4 linked regions of the Homo sapiens genome follow. The protein of the gene in region 1 binds, or shares a complex with, the protein of each later gene. Each region holds a gene or a part of one and is shown in the gene's direction. Other genes may lie near its edges.

Region 1 (7,021 bases):
GAACAGGGTGAGGGACAGCACAAACCTGTGCTAGGCCCTAGACTGCAGTGTTGAAATCACTTAACTCTAATTTATACATATACTTTCTTTATGTTATATATTCTCAATAGACTGGGAAGTATGTTTCTCAAACTTTAAATCCTCTGACAAACATAAACGAAGATTGTTTTTGATACGTGAAATTTCAAAATAAATACTGCACTGAAACAAAAGACAAAATACTGCTTTGCTTTTCAAAGTATAGTTCACTATTGAGCAACATGGATTTGAACTGCATGGGTTCACTCATACACAGATTTTTTGTTTTGTTTTGTTCAACCAATGCACATTTGAAAATACAATATTTGAGGGATGCAAACCCCTCAAATATATGGAGGGCCAAAACTTCACGTGTGGGTTCCGCAGGGCTAACTGCAGATTTGGGTATACCTGGGGTTCTTGGAACCCATCCCTCGTGTATACTGAAAAAAGACTTCTATTTGTGTAACTGCCAAGATTGATATATCTCCTAGTTACCCTCACCATCATTTCATTCCCATTGAGAAGAATTGATTTGAAGCTTAGCTTCATACTGATGTATAGTGAGAAACTCTATAATGTGCATTCTAAAATGTTGCTAAATTATGATAATCTACCTAATTTTACCTGATTTGCTACTTTTCTACTTATAAACAGTTGGAGTAGTGATTAAAAGTAGTCACATTATAGGCAAATGTATCATATATAGATAAAACTATTTTTATTGAATTTGTACCAGCATCTTGCCAAGTTTTGTGTGATTGAAGGGTATTTTTTTCTTACTGATTTTTTTGTGTTACATGCTCACTTTTGATCCTAACCCCACATGAGTTGCTATTCCTCTGTATTACAGATTTTCACTTAATGTCACAGAGACATGGCCTGAATCATTCCACTATATTTAAAGTTAAAATAGACACTGAAAATAAGTTTAGATTGTTTCATATAGAATAGAGAATTCTAAGCATTTAGAAGGTACCTTCTCATTTCTGTCATTTCTCCTTAAGTAGCTCCTTAAAAAGAGATGGTGAAATATAGACACTTCCTTTTTTCCTTTGAGTTACAACAAATACTTTGGAACTTTTGTTTGTAATTAATATTAATGTTGAAATATGTCATATTTCTCAGACTTTTTAAATATGAGATTTCTAGTTTATCCTTTTTTGACATATTAGTAAATACAGAATTATATAATTCAAAAAACAGGCACAGCTTTGTTAGCTTTTGACATTGTATAATATGATACTATCAAATTTTTAATAATATATGCCCAGAATAACCATATAATTTATCACCAAACCAAGGCATGGTTACGCTATGCATACATGTGCATTTATAATGGAAAATATAGGCTTCAGTTAAATTTATGCCCAGAAAATGGTATTTAAGAAAGAAATAGGCACAGTTTCAGTGTTGTTATCAGTAGTTAATGGACTGAAAGCCAAGAATAGTGATATTCAGATATTGCTATAATGTTCTTTTATTAGTCTCTTAACTGTGCCATTTTCAAGTGTTTTTGGCCTGAATGTTTTATTCAGGCTTATAAAGGCTATGTGTGCCATGCCCAGAATGGAGTTTTCCTTTGTCATACCAGTAGGAAAATGTACCTCCCTGAAGGGCTTGTGTGTTTTGTAAAAGGACAAAATGCCTTTATTGTTACTGAGAAGATTGAGATTAATAGGTTTAAAAGGTGTGTGTATGTGTCTGTATATGCCCTTTTTTTCTTTTTAAAGATATGGACTTGTTAAATCATTTTCCTAATTTCAGTGCAGTATATTTGTATTTTTCCCCCAGGTGCATGAATACCTCAGAAGTAAACTCTGTTCACTGTATGAAAATGACTGCATATTTGACAAATTTGAATGTTGTTGGAATGGATCTGACAGGTAATTAAGTCAAACCTCTCAAATATGAATTTTATTAAAGAAAAGAAACAACTATTTCATTCCAGGTCCTAACTTCGTCTCTAGGGATTCCTTGAAATAAATTTAGTAATTTTAGATATAGCACAGCAGTACTGGTAGATAAAAAATTAAAGCATTGTATTTCACTAGTAAATATAAAAGTACACAAATTCTAGGTAATCTAAATTATTTAAATGTCTAGAATTTTTTTTCTTTTATGAACCAGATCACATTTCTGACATGCTAACCATTAAAACGGTGAAGCTTCAGCTTGGTTGTTATTCTTCCATTAAACTGTTGCAGAAACATTCAGGCGGCAGATAACTCATTTGGATTGTTAGAAACACCAGGTTTTCCAGATGCTACATTAACACCTCATAGAAGTGGTCTTTCATATGTATGTTATGTATGATGTTAACCATAATATATATGGTTAAAATTTTAGTAGTAGTTATCCTTTGCTTTTTATAATTTCCAGTTTTGCCGTAGTGTAATTCCTTTTTCGTATTCATTTTTAGTAAAATGTTACCCATTATTTAAAGATAAAATAAGTCTTACTTTGAGTCTTTTAGTTGTCTATTTGCCACTATGTTCCAGTAGAACAGAAAGTAGTAAAACATAATTTTGGAATTAAACTGACATTTAAAGTAATCAGAGATACTTCAACAACAGTTTTATCACAGAGCTTAATATGATTCCGATTTCATGGTGTTGTGTGTTACAGAGGATAATAGAACTTATAGAATGTTTTCTTTCATCTGGCTTTTAAAATTATCTGATTTTTGACATAAGGACTAGTAAACCTAGAGTTCTGTTAATAGCAAACATTGCCTTTGAGTGCTACTACTAAACCTGAGGCATCAAGAAGAAAGAAGGAAAGGGAAGAAGAAAAAAAAGATTAACAAATTTGAAGAGTAAAGAGATACTGAAATAAGGTGTGGCGCACAGCTACAACCAGTTTTTCATTGTATTTAAGCAGATAATTAGCAGTTTTATGTTCTATTATCAGAAAAAAACGATTTGTTTTCCTTAATATTAAAAATTTTTTTTTAACTATTTCAAACTTAGAGAAAATTTGTTAGAATAACACAAAGAACTCTTGGCTGGCCTTGACCCAGGTTCCCCTGTCGCTGTTTGCTGTATCACGTGTTCTATTCTCTGTTTATTTATAGCTATATTTGTCCACATAGGTACGTGCGCATGTGCTCACATGCAACTTGTGTGCCACATGGGAATTTATTCCATTTACGCCAGATGTGATGCCCATAACCCTAAATTCTTGAATGAGTATTTCCTGACAAAAACACTTTCCAACATAGTGACAGTGCAGCATCCAAAGCAACATTCACAGCGATGCAGTACTGCCATCTAATCCGGAGACCCACTGAAACTGACCAGTTACTGTAACTATGTCCTTTATGGCACAGAACAAAGTCAGTCTGGTTCAGTATCCAGCATTTAGTTGTCATCTCTTGTTAGTCTCCTTTATTCTGAAACAGTTCCTCAGTCTCTCCTTGTCTTTCATGACCTTGGCATTTTGAAGAACACAGGCCAGTTATTTTATAGAATGTTTCCTCATGATTAGATTCAGGCTATACATTTTTGGCAGGAATACCACAGAAATGCTGGCCTAATGATACCTTTTTAAAGTTTCAAGTAGCCACAGCCTAGGTGTCCTAATACATTAAAACCACGCAAACTCAGATGATATGGGGATGTCAATCTAAATTACACAAGCCATTTTTAAAGAAATACAGTTTTGTCATCTTCAGGGGCACGCATTACCTTGAGTTTGATTAAAGTTGTTGCCAAGTGTCCTTTGGGAATTGACATTACTAAATAGATAATAATTTGTACTCAGTAGGTGACCTTTGTATGTAAGTATTACTTTGAACAATTCCCCAGTATCCTGTAATCCTTATTTACAATAATAATTTGAACCATTGGTAAGCAGCGGTAGCAGACCCTTTCCAAATTAAGAGCTTCAAACTTACGAAGTTTTGTTTGTGAGGATACTTAATAAATGTCGAGCAGTAATGGGTGGCAAATAGAACTGACAAGGAAGTGTCTTGGGCAGTTTAAAAATTTTGCCACCCCTTTAAACTGATACTTTTATAAATATTTGCTTAAAATGTTCTAAGTGGTAAAAGTAAAATGATGTTCTGTTAAGAAAATATTACAGCCTGGGCAACATAGCAAGACCCTGTCTCTACAAAATATTTAAAAATTATCTGGACATGGCAGCATATGCCTGTAGTCACAGCTACTCAGGAGACTGAAGTGCAAGGACTGCTTGAACCCAGGAGGTTGAGGTTGTGGTTGCAGTGAGCTGTGATTGTGCCACCACATTTCAACCCGGGTGACAGAGTGAAACCCTGTCTTGAAAAATACATATATATAGGCCGGGCACGGTGGCTCACGCCTGTAATCCCAGCACTTTGGGAGGCCAAGGCCGGCGGATCATGAGGTCAGGAGATTGAGACCATCCTGGCTAACGTGGTGAAACCCTGTCTCTACTGAAAATACAAAAAAAACTAGCCGGGCGTGGTGGCGGACGCCTGTAGTCCCAGCTACTCAGGAGGCTGAGGCAGAAGAATGGCATGAACCCAGGAGGCAGAGCTTGCAGTGAGCCGAGATCGCACCACTGCACTCCAGCCTGGGCAACAGAGCGAGACTCCGTCTCAAAAAAAAAAAAATTATACACACACACACACACACATTATGTACCACTTAATATTCTCAGGAGCAGATTATAACATAAGCATTTATTAAATGTGATTATCTGAACCAGACAATACCCTGAGAAGATTATTTATTTATGAGACAGAGTCTCACTCTGTCACCCAGGCTGGAGTGCAGTGGCACAATCTTGGCTCAGTGCAACCTCCGCCTCCCGGGTTCAAGGGATTCTCCTGCCTCAGCCTCCTGAGTAGCTGGGACTACAGGCACGTGCCACTACACCCAGCTAATTTTTTTTTTTTTCCGAGACGGAGTCTTGCTCAGTTGCCCAGGCTGGAGTGCAGTGGCACGACCTTGGCTCACTGCAAGCTCCACCTCCCGGGTTCACACCATTCTCCTGCCTCAGCCTCCCGAGTAGTTGGGACTACGGGTGCCTGCCACCACGCCAGGCTAATTTTTTTTGTATTTTTAGTAGAGACCGGGTTTCACCATGTTAGCCAGAATGGTCTCGATCTCCTGACGTCGTGATCTGCCCACCTTGGCCTCCCAAAGTGCTGGGATTACAGGCGTGAGCCACTGCGCCCGGCCCAAAAAATGTAAATCATAAGATAAAGCATTGGTTTCTTGTGAACAGCTACAGCTACTTCATGCGGGGTTCTTTTGTTTTAGAACCTGTGAGTTCCACAGATAGTTGCTCCTTTGAGAAGCTGGCTGGCCTGGTTGATCACATAGCCTGTAGTTGCAAAAATACTTAACAACGATAATTCTGCACTCCTAAGAAGTTTTACTTGAGGATGCTGTCAACTTTGCTGATAGTTTTGGTAGCCATAAAAAGAATAAGCAGAAAACCCAGTTAATTAGTACCGTATTTCTGGTTTATTCTAGTGATTGAGTTGATGTCAACAGCCCCTGTCCCTTAGTTTAAATCTGCTTTTGAAGTAGCTTCCTATGGTTTAATTGCCGAATCATTTTACTTGAAAACAATTTCTTGTTCTGCTTGTTTGACTGAGTGTACTGTCTATTTTCACAGTGTTGTCATGACTGGATCTTACAATAATTTCTTCAGAATGTTTGACAGAAACACAAAGCGAGACATAACCCTAGAAGCATCGCGGGAAAACAATAAGCCTCGCACAGTTCTGAAGCCTCGCAAAGTCTGTGCAAGTGGCAAGCGAAAGAAAGATGAAATAAGTGTTGACAGCCTAGACTTCAATAAGAAAATCCTTCACACAGCCTGGCACCCCAAGGAAAATATCATTGCCGTAGCTACTACAAACAATCTGTATATATTTCAAGACAAAGTGAATTAGGGTTGGCATTCCTAGCAGAAGAACCCACTTCCTGCTTAGTTGAGATAGTTGAATCTAGCATTCGTTCCTATAAAAGAGAGAGGTCCATTGTGGCGCCCCTTTCCAGTGTTTGACAGTGTGCCATTCGACAACACATTGTTATAGCTACATGGAGAAAGCTCTGTGGATTCATCACTGTGGTGTTCTCCATGTCTGCTAGCCATTTAGGTAAGGGTAGGGCACTTTTAATTTAAATGACTTCTTGCACCATCTTGCCTAATGGACTAGATTGGACTGTATCAACATTGATTTACTCCACTTTTTATGCCTTCCATTGTGATGACGTCAAACACAGTGAAAGCCTTCAGTCATGCTATGGGATTTAATTGTGTATCCTCATTACTGTATCATTTGTGGGGTACACCCCTTCCCCCTTTTTTTAAATTAAATACAGCTCATTCTTACTGTGGCTTGTAGCATTCCTCCTCTTCTGGCCTCCTGGACTGCTCCCCTTCATCTCTTACCCTTGCCCCCTCCACCCGGTCTTGGTGGTGGTATATTAAAAAAAGAAAGAATGAAAGCACACAAAATGAGTCAGTTTGGGGTCAGTGGTATAAAGGGGGTATATGTTGCAAACAAATGTTTTAGTAACAGTTGGCTGTAATCACTCCTCGCCGTGTCTGGCACTGAAAATAAGGAAAAAAAACCTACTACTGAATAAAAGTGACAAAGAATGGAGAATCTGGTTTTCTTTTTCTTTTTAACCTACCTCTTGTAGCCAATATTTTGTGTCATACCTTTGGGCACAGTGAAACAAAATGGGTTTTCATTGTTTATTGGTATTTTTGTTAATTATTTTTAACAAGTGTTCTTTTACATGCAGGAGGAGAGGTATTGGTTCTCTATGAACATATTTTGAATATAGGTTTTATTAAGGATTTCACAATCTATAAATGCTACTAGTTTTTTTTTTTTTTTTTACCATCATGAGGGTATTGGATACATTGTGTCTCTATTTAACTCATTATGTGTTAATGAAATTGTTGTAAATGGGAACCAAATTTGTAGAACTTAATTTCTACTTTTTAGAGTGCTTAATTTCATTTTTGCCTTACTAAATAGTCAAAGACT
Region 2 (7,973 bases), on another chromosome or scaffold:
GATCCCTTGCTGAAATCTTCATATAGGCTTACTGCTTTCTGATGCAACACATTGCCATCAATTGGAATGCTTTCTGTTCATGTCTTCCACCCACAAATTTAATGCCCTTTCCATCTTCACTAAGCACTTATCACACACTGTCACCGTAACTTCTGCAATTTGAGGTGCAACAGCAAAACTAGCACATATTTCTTTTTCCTTCTTCACAACTTCATGGATAGAGGATTTGTTCTTACCACAGATCTTAGCAATCTCAGCATATTTTTTTTCACCTTTTCACTTAGAGGAAGCACTTTACAGCTTCTATTTGGCATATTACAATTGTCAGCATCACTACTGTTGTGTTTGGGGCCATTATTAAGTAAAATAAGAGTTACTCAAACATAAGCACTGCTACAGCAGTCAATCTGGTAACTGAGATGGCTACTAAGTGACTAATGGGCAGGGAGCATAGACAGCATGGATGCACTGGTTGTAGGGATGATTCATGTCCCAGGTCAGATGGAGTGCGACGGCACCAGATTTCATCATGGCACTCACTCACAGCAGCATGTAATTTAAAACTCATGAATTGTTTATTTCTGGAATTTTCCATTTAATATTTTTGGACCAACGTTGGCCACAGGTTAACCAAAACTGTGGGTAGGAGGGGACTACTTATTTTGACTTCTAAGTTGGTTTTGGCTGTTTGGGGACTTCATAACACTGAAGTCATAGTGTATGTATTCTTTTGTACTTAATTTCTTTCATTCAACATTATATTGTAACTCATCCATGTTGTTGGGTAAAGAGTTCCATTGTATAATTAAACTGTTTATGGTTGTTTGAGTCTGGAGCTATTACACATAATAATAATAATGCAAGAAACATTCTTGTGCATGTCTTTTAGTAGACAGATGCCCTCATTTCTCTTGGTTATATTGTCAGGAGCAGGATTCCTTAGTCGTGGGCTATAAATATATTTTCTTTTAATAGGTACAGCAAAATATTTTTCCTAAGTGGTTGTAACAGTTAACCCTAAGTTCCTATGGTTTTAAAGCACAGTTTTTTCTGCAGTATTTTTACTGTAGGTTGTTGATGCTAATTAACGTGGAACATTGAGGTATTTGCCAGCCCATCTTAGATTATATACATACACACATTTTTGTATTTTACATTCATTCAATTTGGATTCAGAGGTAGAAATTTGCCTTGTCATATATTTGGAAATTTAATAGTGAAAAATTGCCCTCAGAAATTAAAAGAAAACTATCTAATAATAATATTGTTCTAAGTGCCTACTCCCTGCTAGTCACTTTAAACATTCTAGTTCCACTTATTCCTCATTGAGATCTTATAAATTAGATATCAGATTGGGACTCTGTCCCAATTCTAGATATTGTTATGGTCATTTTTAAGCTATTTATTTATTTTAATTTTATAAGATGAGGTCTCTCTCTTGCCCAGGCTGGTCATGAACTCCTGGACTCAACAATGCTTCCACCTCAGCCTCCCAAAGTGCTGGGATTACAGGCGTGAGCCACCACGCCTGGCCCTAAACTATTTATTTTTAACCTAAAAATAAGTAATATTTTTTAAAATATAAGTAATATTTTAAAAATCTAATATTAATCACAATAAAGTTTAACTGTGGAATAGATGTCTGGTTTTGTGGCTTCACAGTGAGAATGAATCTTGACTAAGTGTGGTATTTAATTCATGGGAGTGAAACCGGAAGGGGGAAATGAGCCAGGGAGGTTCCTTGGATCCTGCCTCTGGCATTATTCATTTGCAGCTGGCTACATTGCATTTTATGGCTGCTATTTTCTCTCATTTGTCCTTGATTCCTTCGAAAGGAAGTAGTAACTCAATATATTAAACACTGCCTAGAATCCTCAGTGCTGAACATTTTAATTCTATCAAATTTTTATTAGCATATCGTTGAAAAAGAAAGAAAACCTAGGGCTTCAGTTTCTTAGGTCACATAATGGGTAGTTCCAGTAACACACCTGCATGGGCTGGAGGGCACTCTAAATAATAATAATATTCCTGATCTTTAAAAAATATATCAAGGTATAGAGCTCTTAGAATCAGTGTAGAAAAGCCTGTTAGACTGGATTTTCAAATAATAGAGTTCTCTTCCCTTTTAGACAAAGCTATATTAATCCATCCTTTCATTCATTATCATGCATTCACACAATGATTCAACAAGTACTTACTCAGTACAATGTGCCAGGCCCTGTTCTAGATATTAAGCATATAACAGAGAACAAAACAAAGGTCTTTCCCTTGTAGAGCTTACTTTCTCAGCAAAGAAACAGGCAAGAAAATGTATACATATATGTCATGTGGTACTCCGGAGGACAATAAAAACAGAGTAAGGGGCATGCAAATGTAGACTTGGTGTTGAGAACTGCAATTGCTTTTTATAAGGAACAGTTATGAAAGCCTCTCCATCAGTATTAATATTTGTGCCAGGACCTGAAAGCACTGAATCATACATGACTCAGTCAATTCTCTGTCCCCAGCTCTACAAGGACAAGGGTAGAAACTGGGAAACCAGCTAAGATCTCTAATAGGTGTGTTCAGGCAAGAACCAAATAGCATATATGTTTTATTTTGTGGGCTCATCACCATCCTTGTGTTTTATTAGTAAAGGTAATTATTATGTTTATCCAGACATGGACGAACAATATCTGGTACATTTGAGCCACATTGATAATAATGTAGTAATATGAAGTTAACAGTAATATGCTGTGGGTATTATAAATTGAGTTCTATATTTAATGTTCTTTTCTACTTACCTAATATTAATTTTTTTGTAGACATTTCCTCCTCTCTCCTGTTTTTATTGAATAATTTGTAGCATTCTTTCAGCCACTTACAGTTGAACTTCAGTCATTTGTGTCTCCTGTTCATCCTCTGCACAGCATGCTATTAGGTTCTGTTGTTGCCTTGTCTCCCAAATCCATCTCCTTCTGCCTTTCCCAACTTTGGTTTTAGACCTTTGTTTCGTCTCAGAATTAGCCATCCTTCTCTAATTCATGCGAAATTCTCTCTTTAATCCATGTGAAATTCAGAAAAAACAATACAGGTTTTTGAAATGAGTCCTTGATTCAAATTGGTTCAGATCTTTGTTCTTCCGTGTACTGGCTGTAGTGCCTTTTGCAATTTTTGAACCTCAATCGTTCCTTCGTAAAATGAGTATAACAATATCTATGCAGTGAGGATTAAGTGGGATTATGGAGTGTTTAAAGTGCCTAGCAGGGAGTAGGCACTTAGAAAATGTTGGTTCTTTCCACCTTGTGTTCTTCTGCTTCAGATCTCTTAATTTCTACAACTCTAAATGTGCTATTTTCCTCTCTCAGTAAATAATACTACCATCTCACCAGTTTAAATAAAAAAAGCTATGAGTCCCCTTCGAATAATCTATTTCTTTCACAATCTAAATTTAATCCATCTGCAAATCCTATTTGTTCTAACTCAACACATATCCTCAGTCTCTCTGCTTCTCCCCATTGACACTGCTACAACCCTAGTCCAAGAATCTTATCTGTACTGTTGCCATAGGTCCTGAATTCATCCTTCTGCCTCCACTCTGGTCTTCTTTCAGCCTGTTTTCCACAGAGCCTAAGTGATATTTAAAACATAAACCAGATAATATCAGTCCCCTGCTTAAAACCCTCCAGTGGCGTTTCATCATATTCAGAATGAGATCCAACTCTTACCCTCTCCTAACACTCCCGCTCTTATGCTTCAGCGGCACTGCCCTTTTTTCTTTTTCTGCTAACTCATCAAACTCATGGCTGCCTCCGGCCTTAGCACTTGCTATTCTCTCTGCTTGGAATACTCATTCCCCAGATGTCCACGTGACTTACTGCTTCTTGTCATTTAGATCTCAACTCTAATTGTCCCCTGACTTCTATCAGTAGTGCTCCATCACACCATCTTACTTTTCCTAAGGCTTACCACTATCTGAAAATAGCCTGCGTTTCTCTATTTTCCCCTCAGTAAGAATTAAAAGTTCATACTAGGGCCCATTTCCTAGCAGTGTTTGGCACATAGTAAGTATGCTGAAAAAAAAAAACCTTGACTGACTGAATAAATGAACAAATAAACTCACTTTTAATGAGATATCAAGGTTTTATATTAATTACATGAGCCAAGAATTGTGGTTTCATTTTTAAAATGTGAGGACCTACTGGTTTAATCCTTCATACTTCACACATATGCTTGTGCTGGAACTATGACTGTAAATCAATAGCAATACCATCCTCTGTTTTGGCTTCTTCCCCTAACCTAAATAGTTCTCAGATTTACTTTTCTCTCCATCTCCACTGCCACACTGTCACCTTAGTGCAAATGACCATCCTCTCTGGCCTTTTTTCTGTAAGGTTTTAATCTCCCAATATGTATTCTCCAGACTGCAGGCCAGTGAGCTTTTCAGTTGCTGTTACACCCATGCTTGAAAACCCTTTAAGTTTTCATTGTTCTCAAGATAAAGACCAGAATGTGGTCTGGTCCACCACCTCACGTCAGGCCAGCCCTCACTCTCCACTCCAGGCCACACTTTCTCCTCCCCTCCTGGTTCCCGCCTGCCAACTGGCTGGGTAGCCGTTGCTTCCCGCTTCCTGCAAAGTTCTACATCGCACCCATTTCGCCCACTTCTTCAGATTTCAGGAGATTGTTCCTTCCTCGAGGAAGCCCTCCCTGATTAGGCCAAGCGCCACTCCACGTCATACAGCCCCACATCACCATGGGCCTCTCTTTCAGGGCTTTGTTTTATGAGTATGCAATCCAGAATATGACAATCTTATTGACATGCGTCAACGCGAGCTTGCGCTCAATAGCTATTTGCCGAAGGAATATACGGACTAGCGGCCCGACCACTCCTCGCCCCTCCCCTACCACTGCCGCGCACATATTACGCATTAAGCAGGCGCCGCGAGTACGGACATCGCGAGCGCCTGCGCGAAGGGCTACGCATGCGCAGAGGGGCCAGCCCGCTGACAGATTCTCGGTGGCGGCGGCAGCGGCGGCGGCCCTGGACTGCGGGGAATGGGAATCCTAGGTCCCTGACTGAGCACCTCCCCCGCCTCCCTGCCCCCGACATGGCTCAGGAGAAGATGGAGCTAGACCTGGAGCTGCCTCCGGGTACGGGCGGGAGCCCGGCGGAGGGCGGTGGCAGCGGCGGCGGCGGGGGCCTCAGGAGGTCTAACAGCGCCCCCCTGATCCACGGCCTCAGTGACACTTCGCCGGTGTTCCAGGCCGAGGCGCCGAGCGCCAGGCGGAACAGCACAACGTTCCCGAGCCGCCACGGCCTGCTGCTGCCGGCCTCCCCTGTCCGCATGCACAGCAGCCGCTTGCACCAGATCAAACAAGAAGAGGGCATGGACTTGATCAACCGAGAGACGGTCCACGAACGGGAGGTGCAGACCGCAATGCAGATAAGCCACTCCTGGGAGGAAAGTTTCAGCCTGAGTGACAACGACGTGGAGAAATCCGCCTCCCCCAAGCGCATCGATTTCATTCCTGTGTCACCAGCACCGTCACCCACTCGGGGAATTGGGAAGCAGTGTTTTTCGCCATCCTTGCAAAGTTTTGTAAGTAGCAACGGATTGCCTCCAAGCCCTATTCCCAGCCCAACGACCCGATTTACCACCCGGAGAAGCCAGAGCCCCATCAATTGCATTAGACCAAGTGTTCTTGGACCATTGAAAAGAAAATGTGAAATGGAAACTGAATATCAGCCAAAGAGATTTTTCCAGGGCATCACCAACATGCTTTCTTCTGACGTTGCACAGCTGTCAGATCCTGGTGTGTGTGTATCTTCGGATACCCTTGATGGAAACAGCAGCAGTGCCGGATCTTCTTGTAACTCACCAGCGAAAGTCAGCACTACCACCGACTCTCCTGTGTCACCTGCCCAAGCGGCTTCTCCATTTATTCCACTAGATGAACTTTCGTCTAAGTGATTCACTCATCCTGAGACTTTCTTTTTGCAGTGGAGAGAGAGAATAATCTAGTTGGGGCAAACACTGAACTTTGTCAATTAATTTGAGGCTATTTCCTATTTGACCCCTTTTCTTTTTTGAAATTCCCTGAAATGATGTTATTCTAGAGAACTTCTATGTCAGGTTCCTTTGGATACCCTTGAATTCAGTGTAGTAATATTTTCAGACGTTTCCCCAATAAGTGTGTTGAAGCATACATCTTTACGCTGCTAATATGTCTAAATACATATGTTATCCCTTGATTTTTTTAAATAACTGAGAGCTCTATTTATTTATGGGATTATTAAGTTCTGATGAAAATATAAATGTTGACTTAATCAGCATAGTAAACTGATGTTTAAAATTCCATACTTCATGCCCACACTAATTTTTAATGTTATTTTCAGTGGTTGCCGATTTCCATTTGATGAAGAACTATACAGCTTAAAAAAATACGTTAGTTATATCTATCTAGTGGTTGTCTGTTTTACCCAGGAATTCTTGGATATTTAGTTTTCTGGGTACTGAAGTGGATGGGAGGGGGAATGATTAAAGAACAAATTATAAAAGTTTGAACAAATCTTTTCAAATTAAGTATATAAAAGTAAACTTTTAAGAAAAACATTTTTAATGAGATTTTAATAGTAATTCTAGTCAGTCATACAACTATAACTACTATAGAGAAAATAAAATTTTTTCCTTTTTTTTTTTAACCGGAAAGTGCATTTGCTTGGGTGTAATCCTAAAGTGAAATGGGACAGTGCCTTGCAGTCTTTGCCCACTATACATAGGCTAAGGCTAAGCTCTTTGTACTACTGCAAACTTAAAAGTTTTTCAAATGTGGGAAACGTGTGGGAAGGCTTGTTGAACTTTGGCGCACTCAGGTAAACAATACTCTCTCAATTGTTGATATACTTTAAAATATTCAGTTGTGCCTCAGTTCCAGAAATTATTGCCAAACAGGAGCCACAGCAATTTTTGGCTACTTTTCTGCTCTGCCCATCTGTCACCTTACTGGTTTTCCCTTGTTCAGGAAGGAAGCAGCTGTTTCCTTGCCAACAGGTCCCTTCCTCTCCATCTCCCACCAAACTAGGGCACCATTGATTAGACAAAGGTACAGTGTAACTTGGGTTTCTGACAGCAACAACAGGACTGTGAATTGTTTAACCTCTGTGGTTAAAGCTACAGCTTGAGTTGACTGCCTTGGGGATGTCAGTTAATTAAGGGGTGATGATTTGCAAGAGAAAATTAGTGGAGAGTCACATAGGTAAATCATTATTTAACTTAGGTTTTCCTAAAGTTAGAATAGTCGAATGTTCTTTTCTTTACCTTTACAATTAAGACAAAATGTTTAATAAGAATAGCAAAAATTTTTTTATATTATGCATCCTTATACCTCACATATCTTCCTTAACTAGATAGTTTGACAGAAAGAATGGCATACAAAGAGGAAAGGGGAAAAATGACTCAGAACAAGACAAAAGCTCTGACTGTTTAAAGTTATCGCTTACAGAGACTTTAACAATTTTGTGGAATTTTTACAACTATGAGAGTAAATGGAACTGGTCAACTCTTGACAGTTGCCTCAAGATGGAGTGAAATTGCATCGAGGGTAAGACTGTGTCCACAGGTTTAAAATTCTCTCTTCTGAGTAATAGTGTTCATGTGCTCCCATTCTCGACCCTGTTGTTGAAATTCAAACTTAAATAGCCTGACTTCTTGTTGGGTAACTTGCCCTGCCTCCAGAGGTATTTGAACTTCATTATCTTCAACACAGGAATTGTTAATCTTCTCACTTCACCTGTTCTTGCATTAGCTCAATTGATGTCATCACTGATTTCCTAAACTAGAAACTATGGAAGCATCTTTGACTTTTCCTTTTCTCTGTTGGATTAGCTTAATCACCAAGTCCTGTCAACTTCTGAAATGAATCTCAAATTTCTTCCCTTCTCTATCTGTTGCCCCTGATTTTGCCTTAAGTTCTTGCCTGAGTGATCTCCC
Region 3 (7,078 bases), on another chromosome or scaffold:
TCCTGCTTTTTTTGGTAGGTGGAGGTGAAGTTTCCTGATCATACGAACTCGGGCCCTCCAGACATGAGTTCTAAAGGTTCCATTTCGTTGGCTCAGGATCAAAGAAAATCCTGATAATGACAGTGATAATGTGCAACTTGCAAGTCATCAGACATTTATTAAGCACCTATTATGTGGTACAGCAGAAAAAGCATTAAAAATTCAACAAGTACTAAGAGTGTACCTACTATGTGTTCAGAACTGTGCTAGGCACTGGTGTGATAACAATAACCATAATAACAACAATAACTAAGAATTATAAGTGTTTATATGGTGCTAGGAACTGTACTAAGCAATTTAGTTATTTTTATTATTCCCATTTTTCACAGGAGACTGAGGCACAAAGAGGTTAAATAACTTGCCTATATAAGCAAACTAAAATATGGATTTCCCATTTCACCTAGAGGTGAGATGACTTTCCAAAGGTCACACAGCAGTGAGAAGAGGAGCCAGGCAATCTAGCCCCATGACCCCACATTGGAGCTTTAAGTAGGTTAAATGTAAATGAAGATAATGATATCTACTTTCAGAACTTTATAAATGTGCTAAATAATGCATGTACTATGTCTAGCACAGTGCTTGGTAAACATTATTATTATTAGGAATTCATTAATCCAAGTGTATAATCACTCAGTATGCACTGGTACAGCCAACCCAGTTGTTAAAGTATTGAAATGTTTCCATGTCAGTTGATAGAACCTCTGCCCTAAGCCCGTGAGTAGCCCCCTTACTGGCCATGCAGCCCCTCTTGCAGGAGCCCTCCAAACCCCTAGCATTGTAAGGGCCTCCAGGACCCTGTTCTGATGGTTAGTGCCTGTACTGCACCAGCTGTTATGTATTTTCACCATATCCTGGCTACAAATATGAGCTGGGCTCCTGCCTTCAATGAGGGCATAGTCTGGGAGGGACACTGGGCATGACAGGAGAAAGTGATGAGGGCAATGATGAAGGAGTGTGCTGAGTACAGTGGTGGATGATGGAAAAGCTCAGCTCAGGCAGGTCAGAAAGCCTTCATGGAAGGCAAGAGGCTTGACACTAGCAATAACCTGCCTGGATGGGTGAGTGGGAGCATCCCAGATCATCACTAAAGTTCTTTTGTCTCTCAGTTTCCTCATTTTTTTTTTTTTTTTTTTTTTTTGAGATGGAGTCTTGCTCTGTCACCCAGGCTGGAGTGCAGTGGTGCGACCTCCGCTCATTGTAACCTCTGCCTGCTGAGTTTCAGCAATTCCCCTGCCTCAGCCTCCCAAGTAGCTGGGATTACAGGCACGTGCCACCATGCCCGGCTAATTTTTTGTATTTTTAGTAAAGACGGGGTTTCACCATGCTGGCCGGGCTGGTCTTGAACTCCTAACCTCGTGATCCGCCCACCTCGGCCTCCCAAAGTGCTGGGATTACAGGCATGAGCCACCATGCCCTGCCAGTTTCTTCATTCTTGTTGCCTCCACCTAGTTCAGGTCTTCACAACCCTTTGCCTAAATTTCCACAAGAGCTTTATGTGTGCTCTTCTATGCACCAACTGTTCTAGAATCTATTCTGTGCTTCCCTTACTGAACAACCTTTAGTAAGGTCCCTGTGGTCCTATCTCCTCATCAAGGCACCCACAACCCACTATCATGCAGCCTCGGCCTCTGTTTCTAGCCTTTCCCACTTGCTTTTGGGCATGTGCCCAGCACAACTGCAAAGTAAGATGTTCCCTACACTGGACTCTGTTGCTCCTGCTGCTTGGAACTTGTGGATCCTACCTCAGAGGTTTTCAGCACCCTCTTCAGATACAACTTCTTTGGTGAAACTTTCTCCCATCTATGTTCCTTTCTTCTCCCAGCCTCTTCTCCCACCCCAGGGTAGTATGTGGGGTAGTGTGTTCTGAGAACTAGCCTACATTGATAGCTTATTATATGCCAGGTGCTGTTCTATGAGCTTTGCATGTGCTACCTTGTTCTACCCTCACAAAAACTCTAAGAGGTAGGCATTATTATTATTATATTTATATTTATTTTATTGTATTTTTTGAGACAGAGTCTCACTCTGTTGCCCAGGCTGGAGTACAATGGTGTGATCTCGGCTCACTGCAACCTCTGCCTCCTGTGTTCAAGCAATTCTCCTGCCTCAGCCTTCCGAGTAGCTGGGATTACAGGCACCTGCCGCCATGCCAGGCTAATTACTGTATTTTTTTTTTTAGTAGAGACAGGGTTTCACCATATTAGCCAGGCTGGTCTTGAACTCCTGATCTCAAGTGATCCGCCCACCTTGTCCTTCCAAAGTGATAGGATTACAGGCGTGAGCCACCACACCCGGCTGATTATTTTGTAATAAAAAAGACGGCAGCACAGAGAAGTGAAGTAATTTTCCAGAGGCCATGCAGCAAGTGAAAGGTGAAGCTGGGATTCCAACCTAGGAAGCCAGCCTCCTCAGCCTGTGCTCTTAGCCATTGCTTTATAGTGACTAATAACTTGCAAAGAAAAAGAGAAGAGAAAAATTCTTGTGTCATTACTCAATATATGCTATTTGGTTTTGTAATTATTCGTGTCATTATTTTATATCTTCCTCTACGTGGGCTGAAAATTCCTAGAGGGGAGGAACTCTGGGTCTCAGAGCCTGCTGTCTCAGTTACCATCAGTTGTGGGCACAGGTAATGCTATTGAGCCATCACATCCTCTGGAGATTGTGAATTGGTCATGATCAAGCCCACTCTTCACTGGTATTTTTCCTAAATAAATTCATTGCTTGACCAACCCCGGGGCAGGATCAGGCCCAGGGTTCCACATGGACTCCAAGAAAGCAGTGCTTAGTTTTCTCATTCAGATTGTGGCTGAGAAGTTGTCATTTATCGTCTGTACAATAACGCAGATGTGTATGTGACTTCCCCCTTTTCAGCAGTGGAGACACTGAAGCGGCCTGAGGTTATTTACCCAGAGTCCTCAGGCAGGTCTGTGGTGGAGCTTCGGTGGAACTAACTGGAAGTGACTCCATGTTTCCAGTCCAGGACCCTGGGCAACCCCGTGGTAATTGTGTCCTGATATACTTATAAGGACCAGTAGATGGACTAAGTTGTTGACTGACCAGAAAATTCTGGAACTCCCTAGCACTATATTTTTACCTTGACACGAAATGAAATTATGACATCATCATGGGAACACAGGACTTCTTTCTTTTTATTTTCAGAACTTGCTCGATTTTTCCAAGGGTGGACTGGTCAGTCCTTGTAATGGAAAAATGGAAATGGAAAAAAAAAAGGAAAAAAAAATCATTGTGGAGAACCTGTAACATCTTCCATTTAACTTATTTGATAACTGGGTTTGTTCTAGAATCTAGAGAACAAAGTGAAAGATGCCAGCTTTAGAGGACAACCAATAACTTTGTATCTAGACACGATTCCTTGAAAAGAAGCCAAAAACCTAGGCAAAAACTTTTAGAATCCCCCTTTTCTTTGGGGTTAGAACTGACAGCTGCTAAGAGTGTATGTGACTCTAGCGGGGAAAGCGGCTCATCCAAAAATAATGATTGCCAAATACTTTGCAGTAATACTATTTGTTATCCAGGGGTGTCCTCCGCCGCGTATGGCCACCATCTCTATTTTTGCCAGGGTTGAGGGGGGTCGCTTACAGGTGTGGCCGGCCTGGAAACGGTGGTGTGGCTGGTGAGGGCGGAGTCGATCAGGGAAGGATCAGGACTTTATGGCAGAACAGAGTCCACCACCGTGTTCGGAAGAAAGTTCGAATATTTTGTTCGCTTTGGTTCCGGCAAGCCATCGCACAAGCCAGAATCTGTAACTCCAAACAGTAGCGCTCTCGAGCACCGTCCCGAACATTCACTCCCCACGGGCCTGGTCTGCGGCCGCAAGCCGTCGCCCCCTTTAAGAGCCTGCTCCGCGGGACTAACGTTCGAACGGGCCCTGGCGCCCCTCCTCGGGCTCCGATTGGCCGTGCGCGGCGCACGAGGGCGCGCCGGCCAGCCCCGGAACGGTTGGCGGCCCTTCGTGATTGGCGGTCGAGAAGCCTATATAAGGCGCGGGGCAGCCAGGCTGCCCTGTTTAGCGACCGGACCCGAAACGGGGAAGTTGTCTTGTTTGGAGAGGTTAGTAGAGCAGCGCGCGCGTCACCAGAGTCGTTTCTCTTCGGAGTCTTAGGTGATCGAGGGTGTGCCCAGGGGGCGGACTTGTTTGCGCCTCCCGTTCCCTCCCAATTTCCAAACGTGTCACCCCGGCGCCGACGGCCCTGTGCAGGGGAAGCAGATGGAGTTCAAGCTGGAGGCTCATCGCATCGTCAGCATCTCTCTGGGCAAGATCTACAACTCGCGGGTCCAGCGCGGCGGCATCAAGCTGCATAAGAACCTCCTGGTCTCGCTGGTGCTGCGCAGCGCCCGCCAAGTCTACCTGAGCGACCCGTGCCCCGGCCTCTACCTGGCCGGTCCCGCTGGGACCCCGGCGCCGCCACCGCAGCAGCAGCCCGGGGAGCCGGCGGCCGGGCCACCCGCCGGCTGGGGAGAGCCGCCCCCGCCCGCCGCTCGTGCCTCTTGGCCGGAGACCGAGCCGCAGCCGGAGCGCTCCTCCGTCTCAGACGCGCCGCGGGTAGGGGACGAGGTGCCGGTGGCCACGGTGACTGGAGTCGGGGACGTTTTTCAGGGCGGAGAGGCGGACGCGACGGAAGCTGCCTGGAGCCGCGTGGAGGGGCCGCGCCAGGCGGCGGCCAGAGAAGCCGAGGGTACCGCCGGAGGCTGGGGCGTCTTCCCCGAGGTATCTCGTGCCGCGCGCCGCCCCTGCGGCTGCCCCCTAGGCGGGGAGGACCCGCCGGGTACACCGGCCGCGACCCCCCGCGCTGCCTGCTGCTGCGCGCCGCAACCAGCGGAGGACGAGCCCCCCGCGCCGCCCGCGGTGTGCCCCAGGAAGCGCTGCGCGGCGGGGGTGGGCGGCGGCCCAGCGGGCTGCCCGGCGCCCGGCTCGACCCCGCTCAAGAAGCCCCGCCGGAACTTAGAGCAGCCGCCGAGTGGAGGAGAGGACGACGACGCGGAGGAGATGGAGACCGGGAACGTGGCTAACCTCATCAGCATCTTCGGTTCCAGTTTCTCGGGACTCCTACGGAAAAGCCCCGGGGGCGGCAGAGAGGAAGAGGAGGGAGAGGAGAGCGGTCCGGAAGCCGCCGAGCCCGGGCAGATCTGCTGCGATAAGCCGGTGCTGAGAGACATGAACCCCTGGAGCACAGCCATCGTGGCCTTCTGAGCCCTTGGCCCCCCTGCGGGGAGGAGGTGGAGCAGCGGGCGTCCCCGAAGTGAGGGCCAGGCCCTTCCCGGCTGCGAGGACGCCCAGAGACCGCGGGCGCTGAGCGCGTTGGGCAGACTGGTTGCCTCTGGGCATCGCAAACTGCCCCCGGGCGCATCTGGCTTATCTGGAGACCTGGGAGCTTGAGGCTCATTGGAAGAGGACGATCGTTAACTTTTGTGTTTGTGTATGTCTGTGTATGTAAGTTTGTCTTGTGGCATTAAGACTATTTTGCTCTTCTGGAATGCACCACTCCTTCCCCAGGGTTTAAGAGATTGGGGGCAGACAGGGACTTTCCTCTGCCGGCTGCGTGGAGAAGGAAGCGGCTAAAAGGTTTGGGCCGGGGAGTTCCCCATTCGTTCTCCGGGGAGGGAGGGACTTTACACCTACCCCTCACCGGAAAGCTAGACCCGCTTCAGGGCCAGGAGTGGCGTTTCCGCACAGGATTTCCTAAGACGAGAGGGATTTAGCCAAGAGCACAGACTTGGATTCCTTCTGTCCCTCCCCACCTTTCTCTCCCAATGAAGAAACGTTTATATCCTGTGATTACTCTAGGAAAGGGGCGTATTAACGGTCCTTTGCTTCCCCGCAGGGGAGAAAAAGCTTGACGAACTTCACAGAAGAGTTCAAGCTTGGAAATAATGGAGTTTATAGAGAAAAGATATATTTTTAAAAGCTCTAGGTCAGAAGTACTACACAGTGCTTTTAAAAAGTGTTTAATGAGAGTTTACAGACAGAAGCCCGAAGTGGAAAGACCTTATGGTTTTGTAGATATGGTGACTCCAGTCTTTGTTGTATAAAGGTTGGGGGAGCTGATAAGGTTTTTGTACAGTATTTTCTCCTTCGTTGTATTGATTTTTGTATAAAAATGTAACTTCTACGTGTCTAACACGTATTAAATATTTTGAAGCAACGTAACTGCCTGCTTGTCTGTAATAACCTGCCTGGGTTGGGAGGGAAGTGGGAGGAGGGAAACCAGGGCCTGAGCTAGAAAATTGAAGGTGTGGTTCTTAGTATCAGTCATTCGCAGACTGAGGACATTGTTTACTGACTCCACTAAGTATCAAGAGAGACACGTTTAATTTTTCCTCCTAGATCAGAGGACTGCTATTAGATACTAATATCGGCGACCTGTCAGGTTCTAGAAACCTGCCACTACAACTGCCTTTTCTAAGGTCAGTTTAGACCAATTTGTCACCCAATATGTGGGTGTCTAATACTAAGTAATTTAACCAACTTTTGAAGCCCCGCTTATCCACAAAAATGTTTTTCAGCAAAACTTTGTTTCCTGTTAAGCTATTAATACGGGTCATCTTTTAGCTTTGTAATTGAAAAAAAAAAAGTTTAGATAGTAGTTTACCTTAAAAGCCCATTCGAACTGACATAGGAAGATGAAAGAGACTGACTTGTCCAAATTGTCAGGTCCACCTCTGCATCACAGTGGATGTCAGGATGTAAATTTTCAGTTTTTCTCTTACATCTAGAAAGTAAATATATTGCTGAGAGGGAAATTGTTTGCATCAAACCAGATAAGGAAGGAGGGCTAGGCAAATTTAGTTCTCATTTAGCAAAACTTCCTGATTTGTTTTGTTACTTAAATGGTGACATCAGTGTTTGGTCATGGTAGACACTTAGGTGATGATAGCCAAAACATCCATCGATTTTACTAAAATCACTGCCATTAAGAGAGTTTTTTGTCTCTTCATGTTCAATGTTTGAAAGGTATTCAGTAATCTATTTCAGAAGCAAATCAATTAGGGAATGGTGTTTATTAAAATACGGTAC
Region 4 (7,021 bases), on another chromosome or scaffold:
CTTAGCTCCAGATGTGAAGTTCTGTGAGATCAGAAAACATTTTTTGTATTTCTAAGGCCTGGCAAGTAGGCCTTAGAAATGCAAAAAATGGTTTCTGATATCATAGAATTCATAGAATTTTTATGAAATAGGATTTTATCAAATAGAATTGTATTCTATTTTATTCTCATGGAATAAAATAGTTGACTTTTTTAAGGAAAGAAAGTCAGGCCAGGCACAGTGGCTCACACCTATAATCCCAGCACTTTGGGAGGCTGAGGCAGGAGGATCACTTGAGCCCAGAAGTTCAAGACCAGCCTGGGCAACATAGTGAGACCCTATCTCTACACAAAATAAAATAGGCTGGGCATGGTGGCTCACACCTGTTATCCCGACATTTTGGGAGGCTGAGGCAGGTGGATCACTTGAGCCCAGGAGTTTGAGACCAGCTTGGGCAATATGGTGAAACCCCATCTCTACAAAAATTAGCTGGGTGTGGTGGCATGTGCCTTTAGTCCCAGCTACTCCAGAGGCTAAGGTGGGGGGATTGCTTGAGCCTGGGAGGTCGAGGCTGCAGTGGCCCTCATTCCTGGGAAGTCAAGACTGCAGTGGCCCTGATTGTACCACTGCACTCCAGCCTGGGGCAACAGAGTGAGACCCTGTTTTAAAAAGTAAAATAAAAATCAGTGTATTCTTTAATGTCTTTAAAAAAATCGAAACAATAATTTTAGGACTTATATTTTCACCATCTTGCTAGAATTTTCATTTAGTAGCCTGTATCCAAAGGCTCTATAATACTTGGATGCTAATCCCAAACAACTCTTTCTCTTTTTCTTTTTTGAGACAAAAAAAGGGCCTCAGGCACTTCTCCCATCTCAGCCTCCAGAGTAGCTGGGACTACAGGCGCATACCACCACGTCCTGCTAATTTTTTTGTATTTTGTAGAGATAGGGTTTTGCTGTGTTACCCAAGCTAGTCTCGAACCCCTGAACTCAAGCAGTCCACCCACATCAGCTTCCCAAAGTGCTGGAATTACATGCGTAAGCCACCATGACCAGACCCTATTCCCAAGCAATTCATTAATCAAAGCTTGTAAAAATATTCATCTTTAAGCTTACCTGCCTCATTTAGTGCTTTGAGAAAAGACTTCTCATTCCTTCAGGGTAGGAACATTGGGTTTATTGATGGCCACCCATTTCTACCCACCCCTTTTAGATTATTGCAAGAAATCTTTTTATCAATCTTTTTATCCTTCTAGGGTTTGGTCTTAAAGACAGTCTGTGGAACAGTGTATAAGAACACTATTGTGTTGTGCTATCAGATTTACATCTGTAATTCTTTTTTTTTTTTTTTTTGAGATAGAGTCTCGTTCTTTCACCCTTGCTGGAGTCCAGTGGGTCAGTCACAGCTCACTGCAGCCTTAACCTTCTGGACTCAAATGATCCTCCCATCTCAGTTCCCCAGGTAGCTCTAACTACAGACGTGCCACATACCCGGCTAATTTTTTCCTTTTTTGTACAGACGGGGGTCTCACTATGTTTCCTAGGCTGATCTTGAACTCCTGAGCTCAAGCAATCCTCTGCCTCAGCCTCCCAAAGTGCTGGGGTTACGAGCATGAGCCACTGTGCCTGGCCTTTATCTGTAATTCTTGTTTTTTTTTTTGAGATGGAGTCTCACTCCCGTTGCGCAGGCTGGAGTGCAGTGGCGTGATCTCGGCTCACTGCAACCCCCACCTCCTAGGTTCAAGTGATTCTCCTTCCTCAGCCTCCCAAGTAGCTGGGATTACAGGCGTGCGCCACCACACCTGGCTAATTTTTGTATTTTTTAGTAGAGACGGGGTTTCGCCACATTGGCCAGGCTGCTCTCAAACTCCTGACCTCAGGTGATCCACCCATCTCGGCCTCCCAAAGTGCTAGGATTACAGACGTGAGCCACCGCACCGGCCTATCCGTAATTCTTAATCCTTAAACTTCAGCTATTGTATTTCAGCAGTGAAGTCATGAAGTGATTCTAGCTTGGAGATGTCTGAAGTCTAATGCAGAAAATTGTTGAATTCCCAAATGTCACCTTTTTGTGGCATTGTAAATTGAGATATCTACTAATATAAAGAGCCGTGCTTACTACAGTCGTGTGCTGCAGAATGTTTCAGTCAGTGATGGACCACACATACTTTATTTTTACTATATGTTTTCTGTGTTTAGATACACAAATAATTACTATTGTGTTACATTTACCAACAGTATTTAGTATAGTAACATGCTCCACAGGTTTGTAGCCTAGAAACAATAAGCATACCATATAGCCTAGGTTTAGTAGGCTATGCTATGTTTGCACAACAAAATTGCCTAATGTTGCATTTCTCAGAATATATCCCTGTCATTAAGCAATGCATATGACTGTATTTTAAAGATGACATGTTTTGGGGTAAATCCCCAAATGTTTACCTTACAAAAATGACAGTCTCCTTCATGTTGCGTAAGATTAATATTAATTTTTTATGTGTGACTCCCTTGCCAACTTTTTACTCTGTTCTTGCCTTTCCCTGCCACACTAAAGAGAAACATAAAGCAAAAACGATAGAAACTTCAGGATCATCAAGGCCATTTCTTAAAATCAAGAAAGTCATGCTGACAAATTTTAATAAAACTCTTCTGGTAATTCAGACATGCTTCACTTAATGACAGGGACATGGTCTAAGAAATGCAACATTAGGTGATTTTGTTGTGTGAACTTCACAGAGTATACTTATGCAAACCTAGATAGTGTAGTCTACTATACACCTAGGCTGTTTAATATAGCCTGTTGCTCCTGGGCTGCAAACTTGTTCAGCATGTTTCTGTACTGAACACTATAGGCAACTATAATGGTGAGTATGTGTGTATCTAAACATAAAAGGGGTACAGTAAATTATAATTTTTTAAATATATAGAACAGTTAGAACATACAGTATTACAATCTTTTTTGTGTGTGTGACAGAGTGTCCCTGTGTTGCCCAGGCTAGACTGTAGTGGCACGATCTCTACTCACTGCAACCTCTGCCTCCCGAGTTTAAGCTATTCTCCTGCCTCAGCCTCCCAAGTAGGTGGGACTACAGGTGCATGCCACCACACCCAGCTAATTTTTTGCATTTTTAGTAGAGACGGAGTTTTGCCATGTTGGCCAGGCTGGTCTTGAACCCCTGGCCTCAAGTGATTCACCCGCTCCAGCCTCCCAGGCATGAGCCACCGCGCCTGGCAAGTATTATAATCTTAAGTGACCACCATTGTATATGTGGTCCAGTGTTGACCAAGATGTTATGTGGCATATGCCTGTATTAGATTTGGAGTGTAGGTGAAAGAGTTTTTTTCTTTTTTTTTTTTTTAAGAGACAGGATTTAAGAGACAGGATCTCGCTCAGCTGCCTATGTTGGAATGTAGTGGCACAAACATAGCTCACTGCAGTCTTGAACTCCTGAGCTTAAGCGATACTCTTGCCTCAGCCACCCAAGTAGCTGGGACTGCAGGCAAGCACCACCATGCCTGGCTAATTTTTTTATTTTCATTTTTAGAGTCTACGTTGCCCTGGCTAGTCTTAAACTCCTGGCATCAAGTGATACTCGCACCTCAGCCTCCCGAGTTACTGGGATTACAAACATGAGCCACCAAGCCAGGCTTTTATCTTTAGATTAATATTAATTTAGCATGTTATAGTTGTAAAAACACAGAACTAAGAGTAAGGAGTTTTATACCCATTACTGCAACTAACAGCTTTGTGACCTTGGGCAAATATCTTCACTTCTCTGGCCCTTTATCTACATAAGGAAAATTGAGACCAGATAATTCTACATCTCTTGTTTCTAGAATTAAAGCATTTTAACATAATATTATACCTGTTTTGCTGTTTGTCTTTTGCTTGCCAGGGAGAAGTTACACACTGGTTGGCATGTTCATTATATGTTGCATGCCGCAAAAGCATTATTCCCACGGTTGGAAAGGGTATCATGGAAGGCAACTGTGTTTCACTTACCAGAATACTACGTTCAGCTAAATTAAGGTAAACCTCTTTGATGTTTTTAAATGTTATATAAGCTCTAAATTTTGGAATCAGTTTTCTCTTGTTTTGAGATCATTTGACTTCATTTAATTTTTATTTTATTTATTTATTTATTTATTTATTTTTGAGACGCAGTCTCACTGTGCCAGCCAGGCTGGAGTGCAGTGGCACAGTCTTGGCTTACTGCAATCTCTGCCTCCTGGGTTCAAGTGATTCTCATGCCTCAGCCTCCTGAGTATCTGGGATTACAGACACACACCACCAAGCCCGGCTAATTTTTTGTATTTTTTTTTTTTAGTAGAGATGGGGTTTCATCATGTTGGTCAGGCTGTTCTCGAACTCCTGACCTCAAATGATCTACCCACCTCAACCTCCCAAAGTGCTATGGGATTATAGACGTGAGCCACTGTGTGACTTCATTTAATTCTAAGTTATAACATAGATAATCCTTTCCCAATTTTCATATTCTTTCTCTGCCTTTCTCAAATTCTGCTAGAAACCTCTGTGTTGAATCTTTAGCTATACTTTTTAAAATTAATTTTTTAAAATTTGGAAATAATTTTAGGCTTACAGAGAAGTTACAAAAATAAGAAAAGGACAATACCCATATACCCTTGACTCAGAGTCACCTGTTATTGACATTTTATCCCATTTGCTTTCTCATTTGATTTTTCTTTCTTCAATATATAGATCTTTCTCTCTCTCTCTTTTTTTTTTTTTTTTGAGATGGAGTTTTGCTCTTGTTGCCCAGGCTAGAGTGCAGTGGTGCAATCTCAGCTCACCACAACCTCTGCCTCCTGGGTTCAAGCGATTCTCCTGCCTCAGCCTCCCGAGTAGCTGGGATTACAGGCATGTGCCACCACGCCTGGCTAATTTTGTATTTTTAGTAGAGACGGAGTTACTCCATGTTTGGTCAGGCTGGTCTCGAACTCCCGACCTCAGGTGATCCACCCGCCTCAGCCTCCCTAAATGCTGGGATTACAGGCGTGAGCCAGCACTCCCAGCCAGATCTTTCTCTTTTTATCCTCAACCATTTCAGTCTAAGTAGCATACATTTGTAGCCTTTTACCCCAAAATACTTCACTGTGTATTTCTTTAAATAACTACAGTACAGCTACCAACTTCAGCAAAATTAACACTGATAAAATAATTTTATTTAACCTGCTAACTCTGTTCTAGTTTTGTTAGTTGATTCAATAATGTTCTTTATGGCATTTTTTTTCCTGGAAGTACAATTTCTAATTAAGGATCAGGTATTGCATTTGCTTATCATGTCTATTTATTCTTCTGTAATTAGGAACATTTCCACAGCCTTTCTTTTTCTTTTATGACATTACCATTTTTGAAGAATATAATCCACAATCACTTTGTCCCTTTCTTTAATTAAAAAAAATTTTTTTAGAGGCCGAGTCTTGCTGTATTGCCCAGGCCTCGAGTGCAGTGGCACCTTTTTAGCTCACTGCAGCCTCAAACTCCTCAGCTCAAATGATCCTCCTGCTTCAGCCTCCCAAGTAGCTGAGACTACAATCATGTGCCACCATGCCTGACTGATATTTTTAAATCTTTTTATAGAGACAGGGTCTTACTATGTTGCTCAAGCTTGTCTCAAAGTCCTGACCTTAAGTGGTCCTCTTGCCTCAGCCTTTTTTTTTTTTGGGACAGAGTCTCACTCTGTTGCCCAGGTGGAGTGCAGTGGTGCAATCTGGACTCGTTGCAACCTCCGCCTCCCGGGTTCAAGCGATTCTCCTGCCTCAGCCTCCTGAGTAGCTGGGACTACAGGCATGTGCCACCACGCCCAGCTAATTTTTGTATTTTTCGTAGAGATGTGGATTCACCATATTAGCCAGGCTGGTCTCAAACTCCTGACCTTGTGATCCGCCTGCCTCAGCCTCCCAAAGTGCTGGGATTACAGGCGTGAGCCACTGTGCCCACCCTCATCCCCTCTTTTAATAGATGGTTCCCAATTTTGGATTTGTCTCCTATTAACTTTTGATTAGATGCAGGTTAGTCATTCCCTGATGGAAAACTGTATAAGTGATTTTGTCTCCTGAGGATATCACATCTGATGATGGCATGTGTTATCCATCTGCATCTCATTGGTGATGTTAATTTTTGTCATCTGGTCAAGATGTTGTCCTATTTCTCTACTGTATATTAATTTTTTTCACCTTGCAGCTACTCTATGGGTCTCAGATACATCTTTTACTTACTCTAGTATCAAGCATATAGAATTATTTGGCTGGATAGGAAACAAAACAAATTTAGCTATCCAGTTTGGATTCATGCTAATATTCTTTGTTTCTGGGACAAAACTATTTGTGGTCATTGTCTATTTGCTATTCCTGTGTTTCCAGAATAGAAGAGGAGCAAAGTTTAAAGCCCTATTCAGAAATGGCAAATAGGTTTTAGTTGATGCTAAATTTAAATTTTTTTTTATTTTTATTTTTTGAGACGGAGTTTTGCTCTTGTTGCCCCGGCTGGAGTGCAATGGCCTGATCTCAGCCTCCCCAGTAGCTGGGATTACAGGCGCCCGCCACCACGCCTGGCTAATTTTTTATATTTTTAATAGGGAGAGGGTTTCACCATGTTGGCCAGGATGGTTTCAAACTCCTGACCTCAGGTGATCCACCCGCCTCGGCCTCCCTAAGTGCTGGGACTATAGACGTAAGCCACCGTGTCCAGCCTAAAAAAAATGTTTTTAAACAACTTTGGTTCTAAAAATAAAATAAGATGATAAAAATTAAATGAAGATCAATGGGGTTAATTTTTTAATTGAGCAAGACATTATCATTGTTAGTATAAAACAATCTGATCTTTTTCTGTCAATGTTTGTCATTGTTCATATAATTTCAAAAATCTTTGTAATGACAGATTCTGGGGGAACTAAACAAAAAAGAATTATAACAAAACAAATGTAGAGCAGTACATGGCAGGAGAATCACTTGAACCTTGGAGGTGGAGGTTGCAGTGAGCTGAGATAGCGCCACTGCACTCCAGCCTGGGCGACAGA

Evidence for each region.
Region 2: the proteins of PPP2R2A (region 1) and PABIR1 are in contact, whole or in part, in a cryo-EM structure (PDB 8SO0), measured with the Homo sapiens proteins. Residues at the interface, in NP_002708.1 of Homo sapiens: Phe84, Leu87, Lys88, Ser89, Leu90, Tyr178, His179, Asp197, Met222, Glu223, Leu225, Thr226, Glu227, Val228, Tyr337 (codon at 1,849), Asp340 (codon at 1,858), Phe343 (codon at 1,867); in NP_612206.5 of Homo sapiens: His81 (codon at 5,331), Ser82 (codon at 5,334), Ser83 (codon at 5,337), Arg84 (codon at 5,340), Leu85 (codon at 5,343), Ile88 (codon at 5,352), Lys89 (codon at 5,355), Glu92 (codon at 5,364), Arg99 (codon at 5,385), Glu100 (codon at 5,388), His103 (codon at 5,397).
Region 3: the proteins of PPP2R2A (region 1) and IER5 are in contact, whole or in part, in a cryo-EM structure (PDB 8UO5), measured with the Homo sapiens proteins. Residues at the interface, in NP_002708.1 of Homo sapiens: Glu91, Ile92, Glu93, Glu94, Asp116, Tyr178, His179, Asp197, Leu198, Met222, Leu225, Thr226, Glu227, Val228, Thr230, Ser247, Phe280, Phe281, Glu283, Ile284, Ser287, Cys334 (codon at 1,840), Tyr337 (codon at 1,849), Glu338 (codon at 1,852), Asn339 (codon at 1,855), Asp340 (codon at 1,858), Phe343 (codon at 1,867), Lys345 (codon at 1,873); in NP_057629.2 of Homo sapiens: Ala7 (codon at 4,289), Arg9 (codon at 4,295), Ile10 (codon at 4,298), Ile13 (codon at 4,307), Ser14 (codon at 4,310), Lys17 (codon at 4,319), Arg25 (codon at 4,343), Gly26 (codon at 4,346), Lys29 (codon at 4,355), Leu30 (codon at 4,358), His31 (codon at 4,361), Lys32 (codon at 4,364), Leu34 (codon at 4,370), Leu35 (codon at 4,373), Val36 (codon at 4,376), Leu38 (codon at 4,382), Val39 (codon at 4,385), Leu40 (codon at 4,388), Arg41 (codon at 4,391).
Region 4: the proteins of PPP2R2A (region 1) and RBL1 are in contact, whole or in part, in a cryo-EM structure (PDB 9C6B), measured with the Homo sapiens proteins. Residues at the interface, in NP_002708.1 of Homo sapiens: Lys88, Tyr178, His179, Asp197, Leu198, Met222, Glu223, Glu224, Leu225, Thr226, Glu227, Val228, Ser247, Arg278, Ser279, Phe280, Phe281, Ser282, Glu283, Ile284, Ser287, Tyr337 (codon at 1,849), Phe343 (codon at 1,867); in NP_002886.2 of Homo sapiens: Ser615, Pro616, Leu617, Met618, His619, Pro620, Arg621, Val622, Val625, Arg626, Ser629, Leu632.

The regions. Positions count from the first base shown.
Region 1 is NC_000008.11:26,364,503-26,371,523, forward strand, and holds part of PPP2R2A (serine/threonine-protein phosphatase 2A 55 kDa regulatory subunit B alpha isoform), read left to right. Parts: intron 1-1,812; coding exon 1,813-1,904; intron 1,905-5,631; coding exon 5,632-5,911; 3' UTR 5,912-7,021. UniProt on the Homo sapiens protein: Substrate-recognition subunit of protein phosphatase 2A (PP2A) that plays a key role in cell cycle by controlling mitosis entry and exit. Involved in chromosome clustering during late mitosis by mediating dephosphorylation of MKI67.
Region 2 is NC_000009.12:68,775,075-68,783,047, forward strand, and holds the start of PABIR1 (PPP2R1A-PPP2R2A-interacting phosphatase regulator 1), read left to right. Parts: upstream 1-4,990; 5' UTR 4,991-5,090; coding exon 5,091-5,954; 3' UTR 5,955-7,973. UniProt on the Homo sapiens protein: Acts as an inhibitor of serine/threonine-protein phosphatase 2A (PP2A) activity. Inhibits PP2A activity by blocking the substrate binding site on PPP2R2A and the active site of PPP2CA.
Region 3 is NC_000001.11:181,084,633-181,091,710, forward strand, and holds the start of IER5 (immediate early response gene 5 protein), read left to right. Parts: upstream 1-4,067; 5' UTR 4,068-4,270; coding exon 4,271-5,254; 3' UTR 5,255-7,078. UniProt on the Homo sapiens protein: Plays a role as a transcription factor. Mediates positive transcriptional regulation of several chaperone genes during the heat shock response in a HSF1-dependent manner. Mediates negative transcriptional regulation of CDC25B expression.
Region 4 is NC_000020.11:37,085,979-37,092,999, reverse strand, and holds part of RBL1 (retinoblastoma-like protein 1), read left to right. Parts: intron 1-3,877; coding exon 3,878-4,011; intron 4,012-7,021. UniProt on the Homo sapiens protein: Key regulator of entry into cell division. Directly involved in heterochromatin formation by maintaining overall chromatin structure and, in particular, that of constitutive heterochromatin by stabilizing histone methylation.